Regions from separate parts of the Homo sapiens genome. Here region 2 is linked to region 1. Evidence: fine-mapped expression QTL. Tissue or cell type: whole blood. Region 1 holds a variant in brackets; the other region holds the start of a gene. All regions are shown on one strand. Distances are from middle to middle.

Region 1 (8,102 bases):
TGGGCCAGTTTTCACTTGGGTAGATTTGGCTGGCCTCCTTCCCTGTCTTTTCATCAGTGACTCCGCACCTAGAGTTCAGGTATCTTTTGAGCACTTAACCGTGTAGGTCTGTAGTAATATGACTTCAGTGACCACGAAACCAGCAGCCCCAACTTGGGGTACCTGCAGGAGTAAAGAGGTCTTTTGACTCTAAAGGATGTACTTTGAAAAATTAGGTCTGAGAACAGGCCTGACATGCATGTCAGGCAGGTAGTCAGACCCATGTACAACACTCTCCTCCTTGCGCATGACCCAGCTACACAATCATACTCTTACCTTGTTCTCCCATCCAGGTTGGCAAAAGAACCATTATCAATAAGCTCTTCTTTGATCTTGCCCAGGAGGAGGAGAATGTCTTGGATGCAGAATTCTTAAAGGTACCCAGAATTTATCTGATTCTACTGAACTCCAAGCCTTGTGCGAGTTCACTTTTCTTTTTTCTTTTCTTTTCTTTTTTCTCTTCTCTTCTCTTCTCTTCTCTTTTCTCTTTTCTTTTCTTTTCTTTTCTTTTCTTTTTTTAGAGACAGGGTCTTACTTTGTTGCCCACACTGGAGTGCAGTGGTGCAATCATAGCTCACTATAACCTCAAACTCCTGAGTTCAAGGGATCTCCCCACCTCAGCCTACCTAGTAGCTAGGACTGTAGGGGTGCACCACCATGCTCGGTTAATTTTTTTATTTTATTTATTTATTTATTTATTTATTTATTTATTTATTTATTTTGAGATGAAGTCTCACTCTGTCACCCAGGCTGGAGTGTAGTGGCGTGATCTTGGCTCACTGCAACCTCTGCCTCCTAGGTTAAAACAATTCTCCTGCTTCAGCCTCCCGAGTAGCTGGGACTACAGGCACGTGCCACCATACCCGGCTAGTTTTGTGTTTTTAGTACAGACGGGGTTTCACCTTGTTGGCCAGGCTGGTCTCGAACTCCTGACCTGAAGTGATCCACCCACCTCGGCCTCCCAAAGTGCTGAGATTGCAGGCGTGGGCCACCGTGCCCAGCCCTAATTTATAAAAAAAAATTTTTATAGAGATAGGGCCTTGCTATGTTACCCAGGCTGGTCTTGAACTCTTGGGCTCGAGCAATCCTCCCACCTTGGCCTCCCAAAGGGCTGAGATTACAGGCATGAGCCACTGTGCCTGGCCTGGGAGTTCACTTTCTATTTCCACATAAGTGGAGGGTTCCTGGAATATGGAGATGAAGTTATAGAGGTGAGACTTGGTACAGTTTTCAAGGTGGGGACACAAAAATCAGAGGACAACTGATGAGACACAGTCATCAGAGAAATGCACTGTGAGGGAAGAGGGGAGCTGCTTGACTGTAAACCCTCCCTTTGGGATTTCAGGTCAATTCCAACCTGAATTCTCTCCTGCGGTCTTGTCTCCTCATCTTTTAAAGAACCTACAGCCATCCTGTACAGCCTACTTTGCTGCTTGGACAGTTAGTGACAGATTAGAAAACTCTTCTACTCCCCAGCCACGGGAGATTTTTGGATTCAGTGTTCCCTAGCCTGCCTGTGCCTCAAAATTGCCTGGGGAGGCTGGGCGTGATGGCTCACACCTGTAATCCCAGCACTTTGGGTGACCAAGGTGGGCAGATCACTTGAGCCCAGGAGTTCAAGACCAGCCTGAGCAACATGGGACCCCATCTCTATTAAATAAAAAAAGTTAAAAGAAAAAAAATTGCCTAGGGAGCTTGGTATAAAGTCAGATGCCTGGGCCTTCCCCAGACCAGAGCTCTTGGAATCAAGAGTTGCAGCTCAGGTGGGAATGGATATATTAGGGGAAAGTGGGTAGTTTCCCTCCTATACGTCTAACTGCTTCCCCTCCTAATCTAAAATTTAGCTTTTTTTGTGTGCAAGCAGGCTGCGTTGGCAGAGAACTCTTGAGGAAGTTGGATTTGGGTTCACAAATGATCCCTGGACTCTGAGGGTTAATTTGCTGGATATCTGTCAGATCAGAGTTCATTTGGCTCTGGCCCCAGGGTGTCATGATGTCCTTGGAACCTCACTGCTTCAGGAACATGGAGCTTTTGTGCTTAGAGCAAGCATGTTCATCGTCATGGTAACTGCTCCCAGTTTTAAGTAGTGTCTTCCCTGTGATGAAGGCAACAAAGGCAGTTTCATTTATTTCCAGCTTTCAAAGCCAGGTTTGTGAGACAGGTAGCAACATCTTGGGTAGTTTGGAGCAAGGGCTTGGAAGCCCCTGCTGGAGTGTGGAAGAAGTCAGGGGACTATGGGTAGTGGTGCAGCAGCCATGTCCTGGTATCTGTTCTCAGGCAGCCCTTGCGTGCTCTTCCTTACCCACCACCTCCACTCCCAGCTGTTCAGCCTATGCTAACCAGCCCAGCCACCAGAAGCTCTTGCCCCCAGAGTCCTAGGTGGAGAGTTTGACAGTAGGGGCTTGTTTACCCACTGGGCCTGGGCCATACTATTGGTCACATGTGAAATTCTGAGTCTTCTGTTGATCTTAGACAAGTGATCTACAGTAAGGTTTGCCTGGATTCCATCTAGCTACCACCATGGACCCTTGGTCAAGCGTTTCAGTTTTGTAAAACCTTGGATTTCTTTGTTATGGAGCAGGCACCTCTCTTGCTCATGGGGATGTTGAGTTCTGTGGCATCCTGAACAGGAACTGGGTTCAATTCTGCCACAGCTTCTCAATGATTCTGTGGCATGGCTGTGAAACATTTGCAGGGGCTTTGAGAGGCTCACTTGATCCTCACAATAGTCTAGTTAGAGACTAGACACATGGGAGGTTTCATCCAGGGGTACAAAGCTGTCCTGGCATAGCTACCTCCATTGGATACTAGGTCTGGAAGGTTTGTGGTACACAGAGCCAGTTCAGAGCTTGGAGGAAAGTCGACTATGAATCAGGAAGACCCAGGGTGGAGAGGAGGAGTAGTCGCCCAAGGTCCTTGGCCATTCCTATTGTGTGTCCCTGGTGAGTCAGCTGATGCCCAGAGGGAATGAGACCAACATAGAGCGATGAGGCCAAGGAAGTGATAGAAACTTCTGCTATGGAGACTGATCACAGGGGCCCTACTTTAACTTCCCTTCCACTATTCTACCTCTTTACCTGTCCTGGGGCCTTGCCCCTGAGATTGTTTTCCTCCATCTTACCTACTTTTCAAAAGGGCACATAGAGCTACAGCAGTGCTTATCTTTCCATTGTTAGCTTAGCTTGGCCTTGAGGCACTGCAGGATTCATGCCCTAGAAGGCCTCATTGTTCAATCCTGGGGCTCCCCACAGCCTTATGGGAGACCACGTGGAGGTCAGCTATGATGCTTTCCTGCTGCTTATTGTGGGTATTGCCTTTCAGAATGAACTGGACAATGTCAGAGCCCAGCTTTCCCAGAAAGGTGAGTTAGCAAGAGACGAGGGGTGCTGGGAAGCCCCTGACTTGGATGCTGGAGGAAGGGGGCCCTAGGAGGAAGGTTTCAAACCGTTTGGGAGAGCCAGGGCCTTTCCCTGCTTTGTATGTCCAAGAGTCCTGCTAGCTGTTGTGGTGGGCAGAAAAAGAGAGGGAAGGGAGGTGACTGAAGCTGTTCACCTAGACCAGGTGAGCCTCTTGTCTCTGAGTGCAGCTTCTTGCCCAGGAACCAAGATGGGAGGGGGTT[A/G]CCTGATGGGACTGAATATCTTCGGGAGAGGGCTCAGCTGCTGAGTTTGGCTGGAACCTGCTTGAGTCCTGGGTTGATGAACTAACTGGACCCATGGCAGGTAGGGAATGGGCAGTAAAATATTTTCCTAAGTAGTTCAAGCAGCAGAAGGTGGGCTTTTCCCTGAATGAAGGCTCTGGCTCAGCTTCTCTGGTTTGGCACATCCCAGAGAAAGAAGCGGGCCACCCAGCTTTCAGGCCTGAGCCTTGTTTCTCACCTGCCTAAGGGATGAGGCACTGAATCCAAGGGCCCAAGTTCTTCTGCTGATGGATGGACAGGCCTTTCCCTTTCCTCCGCCCTCTACCCCTGCTCCAGACAAGGAGAAACGAGACAGCCAGGTCATCATCGACACTCTGCGGGATACGCTGGAAGAACGCAATGCTACTGTGGTATCTCTGCAGCAGGCCTTGGGCAAGGCCGAGATGCTGTGCTCCACACTGAAAGTAGGTCCTCAGGTTTTATGGGTACAGAATTCATAGGGAGGTATTGCCCCAGAACTGGACTCCCCATTCTGGGCTTATCTTCTGGTTCTGCTCCAGTCATCACCTTGGTTTGGGGAGTTGTAAAATAGAGGCAAATCACTTCTTCCCCTTGCCCTTCCATACTGTACCCATCCATCCCATAAGAAAAGGGCCATATTGGCTATACTTGTGGGTTTTGTACTAGGTAGTTTGAAGAGTCAAGGCCTTCCCAGTACCTCACAGAGGGGATGCTCAACTAAGACCTCAGTGAGGCTGGGCCATATTTCCGAAAGTGGTTCATACTCTACTGATGAGGCCAGCCTGAAGAACCTTCCATTAGCACTCTAGTCCTTGGCTGGGCTGCTCTCCTGAGCCAGATCAAACAGCATCCTAGGGAGGAGCAAGGGCCTTTGAAGTCAGCTGTGCTGAGCTGACCAACCAGATCAAAGTCTGCAGAGTGAACAGCCTTAGACCCAGATGAATTTTGCATCAGCCTGGGTTGGTGAGCCTCTTGCTCTCCAAGGGGCATGAGAGGCGATTGATCTGAACCCACGATTGATATTCTGGCCTTGTAGGCAGGAGCAGTCCTTGCTGGATGCCATTTGAAAGGGAAAGGGAGCCATCCTTGTGAACAGACAAGGCCCCAGGATATTCATTGTCTCTGTTCCTGCTTGGGGGCTGGGCTGGATCACATGGTCTGGCTGGTGGGAGGGAGCAAACTGGCACCTGGCTGCAGAGCAGGAGTCTCTCATGGTATTCTCAGGTCAGAGACAAGTGGTCTTAGGCTGAAGGCAGCCTGGCCAGCTTCCCCTGGCTCAATTATTCATTCTTGGCAACTGTCCATGGGTCTGGGTGTTGGATGGTGAGGCCTGGGTTTGTGCTCTGGACTTCTTCAGCCACCTGCACAACATGTACCATGAGGCCCAGACCACTGGACCTTGGCAGCCCACAGTGGGCCTGTAAATGCTGGCAGTGGGCTGTGTCTACTGTAAGATACCTTTCAGGAGGAAGCAGGCAGGGAGGTGAAGAAGCAGCTGGCTTAGAGCCTTTTAGAAGAAGAAGCACAAGCGAGAGTGGGACCCAGGAGCTTTACCTCCTGGGGTTTGGGAGTACATGGTTATCAGCATTTTCAAAACATAAGCTGCAGAGAGTTCTGGAGCAGAGTTTTCCTAGTGACTTTAGCAATGGCTCCTGAGGGCCTCCAAGCATCAGGTATGGGTGTATTTGCTCTTCAGAAGCAGATGAAGTACTTAGAGCAGCAGCAGGATGAGACCAAACAAGCACAAGAGGAGGCCCGCCGGCTCAGGAGCAAGATGAAGACCATGGAGCAGTGAGTTTGGAGCTGGGTCCTGCACTGTGCCTTTGCCCCCAGGGCCTGCAAGTGGTACAGTTCTTAGGACTGCAGCAGGGAGTGGGATTGGGTCATGTCCGAGGCTCAAATCTCCATAGGCCATGGAGGGCTCAGGTCAGCTGGGTGTGGGCACAGATCTTAGCCTCTATGAACTCTTCCCCCATTCCAAGGAATGGGAGCCCTTGCCACATTCCTCCCTGTCTCTGCTGCCTGTGGCCAGATGACCTGGTGGGTCTTTCCTTCCAGAAACCTCTCTCCAGGAAATCCCTGACCTTGAGACCCTCTTTCAGCACCTCTTCTTTCTCAGCAGCATCCTTGGAGCTATGCTCATCTCTGCCACAGGGCCTTTCCTTGGGCACACCCACCTACTAAAGCATCCTGGCAGCCTAGCCTGTTACCTTAGCAACGGCAGCAAAGGAAGGCAGAGCGGCACTGGGTACCTACCCATCAGCCTCCAGATTGCAAATGCCGTGGGCTGGGTGTATTTTTCAGGATTGAGCTTCTACTCCAGAGCCAGCGCCCTGAGGTGGAGGAGATGATCCGAGACATGGGTGTGGGACAGTCAGCGGTGGAACAGCTGGCTGTGTACTGTGTGTCTCTCAAGAAGTGCGTACTGTGGCCCCTCTCAGCAAACACAGGAGATAGGCCATGGGGCCCCAGCCGTGTCATTGCTCCCCATCTCTTGTAAAGCAGATGGAACTAAGGGGCAAACTCTGGAGCCATGCTGCCTTTGTTTGAACCCTGATTCCACCTTTCAGCAACTATGTGGCCTGCTGCCAGTTTCTTGGCCTCTTTGACCCTCAACTTCCTGAATGGAAATAGTAGTAGACCTGCCTCATAGGATTGTTGAGGATTTAGTGTGAATCTTAAGTGCTGTTTCTAAGGGAGTTGACCTAGCTCTCTGGGCTATAAGCCCCATTGTGATTGATATGTAGAGCCTGTTCCCCATTAGCACTATGATCCTGCCTGGCTGGGATCAAACTCTACTCATATTCTTCACTCTGGTGGGTGTAAGGTTGGCAGGAAGGGTGGAGGGCCACTTAGCTGAGAGGCATAGAGGGTCCAAGATGCCTCCTTTAAGACCAGGTGGTTTAGGGAGCCCCCTAGTGAGACTGGGGCTTTCTGCATGCCCTCTCAAGTCACCAGTGCCTGCAGGACAGGCAGGAGGAAATAGTCACTTCCTTGCATTCTCTGCAGGACCCTCCACAGTGCCACCTGGTACTTGTTGGGCTCAGGTGTCAAAGTAGGAATGAGAGTGAGTTGAGGGGTTGGGCAGTGCTTTGTGTTAGATTAGTGCTGTGGCTCAGTCTGACCTGCAGGTGTTCTTTTCTGGCATCTCTTTCCATGGCCACATTGCAGAGAGTACGAGAATCTAAAAGAGGCACGGAAGGCCTCAGGGGAGGTGGCTGACAAGCTGAGGAAGGATTTGTTTTCCTCCAGAAGCAAGGTAACTTAGCAGTGAACAGAGGTTGAAGGAGAAGTGGCTCTCCTTTTGTCATGTTCACTCTGGTCTCCTGAGCAAGGCCATGGGACCTGATGGCACAGCTGACTCCCTGGGGCAGCTGGAGGACTTACAGAAATTTGTTACCAGTCCTTACTGGGCATTGGCCTGAATATGTGGCTTGTCCACTAGGGGTGGACAGATCACAGAGGTATCCCCCAACATGTGGACACTGATGCTCCCCTCTGCTCTTCCTGGCTCCTGGGTACCTCTCAGCTGGCTGGAGAGCACAGGCCTCAAATGTGACAGCATCAGAGGCCTATTTTTGTACCACATCTGGAGTAGAAGGGCTCCTGGAACCTGATTCGGTCAGCACAGCTGCTTTTACTTCTGGCATGGTGCATCCACAGGCTGCAGGATGTAGGAAGCAGCCTTTGCTTCTAGGCAGCTCCGGATGTGCATTGCCAGACTGAGGCCTAGCCTCAGAGAGCTGGGATCTCTGCCCATATCTCTAGTCTCTTCTGGGCTACCTTGATCACTCCCTGGGGAGCAGCAGGAGGGGGCAGGGCACAAGGCTACCACTTGGCTTGTCTTTCATTCCCTACACTTTCTTATAGTTGCAGACAGTCTACTCTGAATTGGATCAGGCCAAGTTAGAACTGAAGTCAGCCCAGAAGGACTTACAGAGTGCTGACAAGGAAATCATGGTGAGGGACATCCCTGGCTTGACAGGAATGAGGGGTGGTTTGTGTGCCCTCCCAGAGCAGGGCTGGGCTATCTCTGCCCAGGACCCTTGCACCAGTCAGTGGTGGTTCTGGGCCCCTGCATCCTCCTGGGTCAGGGTGTGCCCCTTGGCCCTGGTCCGGACTGGAGCCTGGGCCTCCTCAACAGAGGGCAGACAGAACCATGAGTCTTCCCTCATAGTCTGTCCTGCACTTACATCCCTGAGGTCCCTTATCAGAGGAGGGGCTCTACCTGGGGCTTGGCCTCCTGAGCCTAATGATGAGGTATCAGGCCTTGCTCTGTTCCCAGTGGGCTGGCCTTTCATGCATGCTGCTCATGTCCTCTGCATTATCTCCGGACTTGATGCCTCAGCCTTTCTCTCACACACTTTTCTTTCCCTCCCCAAGAGCCTGAAAAAGAAGCTAACGA
Region 2 (8,102 bases), 170 kb after region 1:
AGCTGCCGAGGCACAACATCTACCACCACTGAGGTAACCTTGGTATACCAGTCATACTGCAAGAGAACACAATGGTCAGGTCCAGTAGGGGACAGGCAGTTCCCTTAGGGCACAGTGCCCTGTGCCTATCCCCTTTTGCCTCAGGTAGCCCCAGGAGATGGGGGAACTGGAATAAGCCTGATGTATCTCTTTTCTGGTGACCTGGACCAGATGCCCAAGGGGCCTCAGATAGGCATGTCCCTCTGACTTTTACCAGGGGCCCAGAGCTCTTCCTGGGGAGGGTCTGGGATTGTGTAACTCCCCACTATATCCCAGCCCCTTGCAGAGCCTGGCTACATGCAGTTGAGAGCCAAGGGGAGGAGCATTCTTGCAGACGAGCATTCTCTCAAGGTGGAATGCCCCAACAGTGCAAAGCTCTCCATGGCAGCACTCTCAACCTCTAGGCCCTCCTTGAGAGGACAGGCAGAACTCACACCGCTGCTGCATTGAGGACAGAAGGGCACCTACTGAGGGCCTATGGGGAGATGATACTGGCCCTTCAGCTCTCATCCACCATCCCATCTTCTTGCTGACCACCCTCCCATCCCTGCCACCTCCAGCTCACCAGGCACAGCTGGCTGCATTGGTGATGGGGGATCAGAGATGGGTACTGCAGGTAGACAATGCGACATTGGTCTGGGCTCAGCCGGGGAGAAGAGACAGCCAGGGAGTCATCCGAGAGGAGCTCTGGGCCAGATGGAAACATGAGCATCACGCAGGCTGGCAGGGCCAACATGTGTCAGCAAAGCACAGGTGGGCATCAGCCACTTACCACACTTCCCCCCGATGAGGTCCACATAATACAGGGCTGACCTGGAACCACGAGACAGACACTCAGTCTCAAGGCCAGCTGGGCTGCAAGGCCCCTTGCCTTGCCCCACTCCCTCACCTGCGATTGGTGCAAAAGCGGATGCCCAACCGGAAGGGCTCATGCCACCAGCCCACAAACACCACACCAGCATCTCCAGGGGCCCAAAATGCCTGTAAACAGGATCAAAGGGCAGGAGTGAGCAAGGGGTGGTAGCTCAAGAAGGGTCCCAGACTCCAGGGGGGACACAGGCTGTTGCTGCTGACCTGTCCAGGGGACACATTCTCAGGGACCCCCTCAAGCACAGAGATGTTGCCACTCTCGACATCCAGCACGCAGAGCACAGGGATGCTTTTGGAAACCATGTTTTCTCCCCAGTCTTCATAAAACACAAACTGATCCCCCTGAGAACACAAGATACTCAATGCCCAGCCTGTCTATAGGACCTGCTCTGCTTCCTAAAAGCTAGTGCCTCCCCAGGTCTGACAGGCACAGTATGGGAAGGGAGCACACTGAGCCCCAGGGCTGCCCTGCCGGGCCTTCGTGGATTGACCACGAGCACCTTGATGGCTTGGTCTGGCTTCTTCAGCCTGGCTATCTCATCATCGCTGGCACTGACGTCCAAGGCTTTGGTCTGAAAGAAGGACTCGGCCTTGGGGCGCTTCTTCTCTGCCACATACAACAAGTGTGTCTCCGAGTGCGACCAGGACAGGCAGCCAAAGCAGTCTGGGTGCAGGGAGGGCCAATCAGGGGGGGCCCAGGGCTACGGCTACCCCTCCTGTCCACCCTGCCTGCTCACCAGCCAGATGCCTCACCATCCTCATAAACAGGCCCATGTTTCTCCAGCGCTGACAGGTTGAAGCTCTTGAGCTTCCGGTTCTTCTCCCAGACCTGAGGACATCTGGGCATTAGGCTGTTTGCCCGCTAACAGAGCCTTATCTGTGGGGCAGAGCCTCTCTCTTGTCACCCACTACCTGGTCCCATGCAGACTCACCTCCAGGAACTGCTTCTCTTCCCCAGGGCCCGTGCCTCCAGCCTTGCGCAGCACAGCTTTCATGGTGCCTGAAGGAGACTCTCTGCTCAGCAGTCTGTGGACATGGGGTAGCACAGGTCAGGATTATCTTGCAATAACCCCTTCCTGCTCCCTACTGGGCACACCTCTTAGGAGAGATTCTTGAGGCTCTGGCCCCACACCAGCTTCTGGAGCACCTCTAGCCCCACCTTGCCTTTCCTCCCTGAGGCAGAGACTCTACTCTCTGCAACTCCCCAGGCCACCATGGGCTCTAGTCCAGGCTGAGTTTGGAGCAAGCTTCCAGTGCTTATCAGGCCATGTCACCAGAAACTGAATGAGCTCCCAAGGGGGCAAGAACCTGGCTGCTGGCCTCCCTTCTAGGCACATGGTGAGCATTCATAAAAGGCTTGCATTGCGGACGGCTGTGGCCTTGCCCACAAGCTTCCTCCCTCAAACTTACTCCCCCCGGGTCTCCACACTGTTGCCTGCAGGTCCTGCAAACACCACTGAGTCCCCGTCATGGAACACCAGGTATTGGCGGCAGAATCGAATGTTCTCCATGCGTTCCAGGTCCCTCTGGGTCCACTCTGTGAGGGGAGGCATGAGACTGCTCACCTTGTCTTGGCTACTCCTGGCTACTGCCCCCAGCCCCACCTGACCCAGGAAGGCCTAGATCTATCTTCCCCAATCTCTCAATCTGTCTCCAGACACTGACACCCTGGCTGCAGGCTGGACAACACTTGGCCACAACCCTAGTCCAGGCCTCCAGAGCCTGAGCTGACAGCCTCTTTGAGAGAACCCCCTAGTAACCCCAGCATCCACCCTGGAATCTTGAGGGCAGCCTGGCATGTGTATGGGATGGCGTGTTGGTGGAGAGCCCTACAAGGTCCACGCCCTGAGCCCAGGTTTGACTTCTACCCCTACGCCGTCATCTCGTGCACTCATGGCCGCCATTCGATAACGCCCCGCACGCCCCCTCCCCCCCTCCACACACCTGTGTGCAGGGACCTGTGGGAGTGTAACCTCCAAGTCCAGGCCGGCTCCCTATATACCCTTACGCACTGTCAAGCAGCGAGCCCTCCACACCCCCTTCCTTCCCACCCCAGTGCGCGACCCCGTCGCCAGCCAGTTCCCCTTCGCACACACACCAGTGTGCACCGTCCGGTATTGGCCGCCGTACTGCGTGGTGACCTCCGGGCCCAGGCAGGCGGCGCTCAGCGCGGGCTGGCGGCTAAGGCCCCGATACAGAGCCGCCGCCTCCTCGGGCTCGCTCAGCAGCACCTGCGCAGGGGACACACCAGGGTCAGGCCCGGCCCGGGCTGCAGGGACCACGGGGACCGCGGGCCGAGCCCTCACCTGACGTTCCATAGTCTCCTCTCTGCCGCCGGGGCGAGGCGGGGCGTGCTCGCGCCCGGAAGTGAGGCTTCCGGGGGCGGAGCCTGGGACGGCCCGGGCTGTCTCCGCCCCTGCCCTGCGGCAATCTGTGAGGGGCGGGGCCTTCGGCTAATGGGTGAGGACCGTTGGCAGGGGGCGGGCCTTGACGGTGAGAGGACCCGGCCTGGGAGCGAGAAGTCCTGGGTGGGTGAGAGCAGGGGTCTCGCCAGGGGCGGACTAGCCAAGTGGGGGGCGGGGCCGTGGGCTGAGTCCTGGGCCTCTTACCGAGGGGCGAGGCGTTGGATCTCGGAGGAGAGGGGGCGGCCCTGTGGAAGCGGAACCCGGGAGCCCGGCTTCGGGGAGGGTAGAAGGGCCTACGAGAGAAGGGGTTGAGGGGGTGCTGCAAGGCGGAAGCAGCGCGGTCGGACGGGCATGGCCCAAGCACGCGAAGGGCGGGGCCCGAGGGGAATGGGACCAATGAGTCTTTGAGGATGAAGGGCAAGGCGGGCGGGTCCGGATTGGAGCCCTGCGAGGAATGTGGAGCCGGGAGCCTGTGAGCGTGAGCGTGAGCGTGAGCGTGAGCGTGAGCGTGAGGGTGAGGGTTGGGCGGGGCGGAGCCGGCCGCAGCGTGGATCTCCCGCGGCTCTGGGGCTGACTGTAGGGTTCCTTCGGGTCCACCACGAGGCCGACATTCACTACACAGTGCCAGGCCCTGCCCTGGAGGGAGTTCCACGCAGACGAAGAAGAGAAGGGCCAGGGTCCGGGCGGAGGGCGCGAAGCAAAGCCCTGGGGTGCGGGGCAGAGGGGCGGGTGCCAACTCTTAGGGTGCTGCCCGGACTTATCAGTCGCCAGGCCTGCCGCAAGAGCTATCTATCCCCGCAGCCTTTACCCAGCCTTCTCAGTGGCACCTTGTTGGGGACCGTGAGCTGGTGGGTCCCTGCCTTCCTCCCCAGGCCTCACCCTGAGCTCTTGGGTGTGAAAGGCCTGGTGGGCTCAGACTCCACCCAGGACCAGGGAGCTTCCTGTGGAAAAAACCTAGGCAGGCAGGTTCCCTGTGCACGTGGTACAGGATTGGCTGGGCTAAGGTGCCAACAGAGATCAGGAGAGGCTGGACAGTAAGGATGTTCCCTCCATATACCTGAGTCTGGCTGGTCTTCCACATTCAGGGCCCTGGCTCCCTGCTCCATGGCGTGCTTGTGATTGAGAGTCCACTTGTCTGGCCTGTAGCTTCCCCTTTCCCATCAGCCGCATCATTACTTACTCAAGATAACTAGTTAAGTAAAAAAAAAAAAAAAAAAAAAAAAAAAAGTCCCGGCCGGCCGGGCGCGGTGGCTCACGCCTGTAATCCCTGCACTTTGGAAGGCCGAGGCGGGCGGATCACGAGGTCAGGAGATCGAGACCATCCTGGCTAACACGGTGAAACCCTGTCTCTACTAAAAATACAAAAAATTAGCTGGGCATGGTGGCAGGCGCCTGTAGTCCCAGTTACTCGGGAGGCTGAGGCAGGAGAATGGTGTGAACCCGGGAGGCGGAGCTTGCAGTGAGCCGAGATCGCGCCACTGCACTCCATCCTGGGCGACAGCCAGAGTCCATCTTAAAAAAAAAAAAAAAAAAGTGCCAGGCGCGGTGGCTCACGCCTATAATCCTAGCACTTTGGGAGGCTGAGGCGGGTGGATCACCTGAGGCCAGGAGTTCGGGATCAGCTTGGCCAACATGGAGAAACCCTGTCTCTACTAAAAATACAAAAATTAGCCGGGCTGGGTGGCACGCGCCTGTAATCCCAGCTACTCGGGAGGCTGAGGCAGGAGAATCGCTTGAACCTGGGAAGTGGAGGTTGCAGTGAGCCGAGATCATGCCACTGCACTCCAGCCTGGGCAACAAGAGTGAAACTCCGTCTCAAGAAAAAAAAAAAAAAAGAGTCCCAACTTTCTGACGCCACTGCATTTGTCAGTATGTACAGGACTGTATCAAGGCCAGAAACAGGAGTAGAATGAGTGGCCCCAGCCACCAATTTGGGTGGAAAGATTGGAAAATAGGATGTTCATCAAGCATTGTTTATAATAGGAACACTGGGAACATAGTGCCTGTTCCTTAGATTGTGTGTGGTAGACTGGCTATGAACTAATGGTGTATCTCTCTGGAGGTTGAGCACTGGAAGACGAACATTTAAGTACCTGAAATAAACGTGGAAATAAACAGAAAGCTAGAAAACAGGATATATTGCACCTTCTGGCTTCTGTTTAAAATGAAGACTGGAACAACAAACAGGAAAGAAGGACACGCATCAAAATGTTAATTCTGGGGAGAGGGCCAGAGGTGAAGCTGGGATTCCTGTTTATCTGTGTTAAAAAAAAAAAAAAAAAAAAAAAAGGTCTAGCAACTCTGGGTGACTTCGGTAAGGAGGTACTCCTGACCATCTGAGGAAGGCCTAAGGTCTGGCAGCCGGTGAGAGTTTGGGGGTTGGAAAATTCGGAGCAAGGCAGAGAGGTGTAGGGCTTGTTGGCAGCACCAGGGGGCAGCACTTGTTCACTGCCTCCCTGGAACCAGGTCCCAGAAAGCTGTGTATGCAGCCAACACACCTGAAGGCCATGGAGGTGCTGTCCCTCAACAGCCTGCGCACTGACTGCCTGCTCCAGGTCCAAGCTTGGGACCTCCCCTTGGGCACCTTTGTGGAGGGCCCATTGTCTTTGGATGGCTTGGTGTGGACTCAGCCCCGTGCTGTGCCAGCACTTCTGCAACTTTGTCCATCCTTTTCCCTTTAACCATGGACAGGATTGTCGCAAATTTGGGGATTTGCTCCTTCAGCTAAGCCTTCCCACTTGAGAAACCATCCCAGAAACAGTCTGTAGGTTGTTTATATCAAGTCCTTTTATTCTGATACCACAGAATTACCTTGTCACAATACAGGGGGAGGGACACTGAAGTACCACGAGTTCTCACAGAGCACAGAAGGACAGCACACAATTCACAAGGTCATGTGGAGGACTCGGGTCATTGCACTTACAACTGTAAACTTGTTTGTTTGACTTTGTACAGCACTCTTCCCCCCTCAAATAAAGAAGGAGAGAAGGAAAGAAAGGGAGAGAGGGAGGAGGAAGGGGAAAGCAAAAACAAGACATGAAAGCTAGAGGAAAAGGTATTGAGTGGCCACCACTCTCCAGGGTAGTGCACTTGGAGAGAAGGAGCTGATTTGACCCCAGAAACTGAATGAGGCAGAAACACACACACACACACACACGCACGCACGCACGCACATACACACATGATCATGTGCATACACATACAATATCTCACGACTGCCATGGCTCTCCAGTGCCACCCCAGTGCACATGGCAGCAGGGCTGCTGGCACCCAGGGAGACAGAGATGGCATCTCCGAGGAGTTTCAGTTGATTAGGCCTGTCCCTCTAACCCTGTTGGAGTCCATGATGACAAGTATTTACAGCATGGGGGTGGGTAAGAGGAGAGCAGACGGGACAACAGGGCAGGACCATGCTGTCCTGGCAAAGGACCTGCCTGGAAAACTCCCTACAGGCTCCAGAAGGCAAGGCATAGTTGCCACCACTGCTGTTCTTTCACTGTGGGCCCTCAGACCACATGCTCTGCCCAAGGATTGTAGGGGAGGGCTGTCACTGTGAAGTGAGTGCACTGGGCCCTGAAGTGAGCAGAGAGAGGAGGCAATGCCCTTGCTCATGATGCTGGGGAGAGGGGTATGGAGAAGGCCTGGGCTGCATGCTAGAGACTCCTTGCCCATTTGGAGATGTGTCTGTTGCTCTCTACTTTCCAAGGCACCAAGTGCTGGTCCCTCAGCTTCTGGCTGCATTGTCCCCAGAGTCACAACTGCATCCATGCAAGGGCCAGGAAGGACAGTCCATGGACCAGAGGCCTGCTCCAGCCACCTTCACAGAGGGGCGATGATGTATCCTGTGGGTACAGTGGGGGATGAGGAGTGGCAGATGTCAGAATTTCAAACTCAGAGGGCTTGGCCAGAAAGGAAATTTGCTGAAAAGTCAGTACTTTAGAGCCTGAGACTAGGCCTGCTGGAGGCTGACCTCCTAACATTTCCCTGCCTGTTCCCTACTTCTTGTCCCATCCCCTGGCCTGTAGTGGAAAGGACTATTGCCTTGGTCTCCAAGGCACATCCCCACACAGACCTGGTCCTGGGTGGCCAGAGGTGTTAGGTGATGGCTTCCCTCAGCCCTTGCTCAGATGGCTGCATTCAGCCCATACCTGATCTTTGGGATGAGGCAGGTATTCCATGGGTGGGGTGAGGCCAAGTCCCAGAAAGGCAAGGGTGTTAAGTCCAACACAAAGGTTGGCAGCTTCCTGTCCCATCCATAGCTACCAGAGGTGAGCGAGGAGCCCTCTCTGAAGGGGTGTGTAGATCTTATAGAAAAGCATGAGAAATGCGGACCCCTGAGAAATGCATGGTGCAAACCAGAGCACTCTGGACGAAGGTCAGGCCTTGAAGGGTCAGGCAGGTACTGCCTGCCGCACTCCTGGCTCAATGGTAAAAAAGCTGATGAGCAGCGGGACGCTTGGGCTTTGGAGAAGGGGGTGAGCAGGGAGCATAGGTCCTGGGGACAGATGCAGAGAGGGTCACACAGGACCTTCTGTAAGATTTGCTATTGAGAAACTTCACAAGAAACTTAGCTTGAAGCCACTGTTTATATGAACAGTTCCAGATGACCACTGTCAACTGTTCTCACCACAAGTGCCAAAGGCCCAGCTCTTCCTGAGCATCCATTGACCCCCTAGCTCCAGCCCAGATCTCCTGGCTCACAGTCCTTTGAGCCTCCTAGCCACAGAGGAGAGGCATGAAACAGGTGCAGTCAAGAGCTGGGGTCCCTCGGGCACAGCCTGGCTCTGC

The links. PIP is the estimated chance that this variant, and not a neighbour inherited with it, causes the effect.
Region 2: it holds the start of APEH, and the variant in region 1 is fine-mapped to the expression of APEH in whole blood (TOPMed, PIP above 0.99).

What each region holds. Positions count from the first base shown.
Region 1 is chr3:49,839,839-49,847,940 of GRCh38, reverse strand. It overlaps TRAIP (TRAF interacting protein), which reads left to right. Exons shown (of 15, transcript NM_005879.3): 3 at 333-416; 4 at 3,361-3,400; 5 at 4,013-4,140; 6 at 5,394-5,488; 7 at 6,002-6,115; 8 at 6,869-6,956; 9 at 7,568-7,657; 10 at 8,081-8,102. Among named protein-coding and RNA genes, the nearest start is that of TRAIP, 13 kb to the left of the region's middle. The variant A/G (reference allele first, on the strand shown) is at 3,659.
Region 2 is chr3:49,669,527-49,677,628 of GRCh38, reverse strand. It overlaps APEH (acylaminoacyl-peptide hydrolase), which reads right to left and starts at 3,278. Exons shown (of 22, transcript NM_001640.4): 1 at 3,216-3,278; 2 at 3,008-3,140; 3 at 2,320-2,446; 4 at 1,842-1,935; 5 at 1,663-1,738; 6 at 1,410-1,573; 7 at 1,114-1,251; 8 at 929-1,020; 9 at 812-852; 10 at 605-726; 11 at 1-56. The coding sequence starts at 3,227. BSN (bassoon presynaptic cytomatrix protein) reads right to left here. Exons shown (of 12, transcript NM_003458.4): 12 at 6,080-8,102. RefSeq lists a silencer at 2,984-3,593.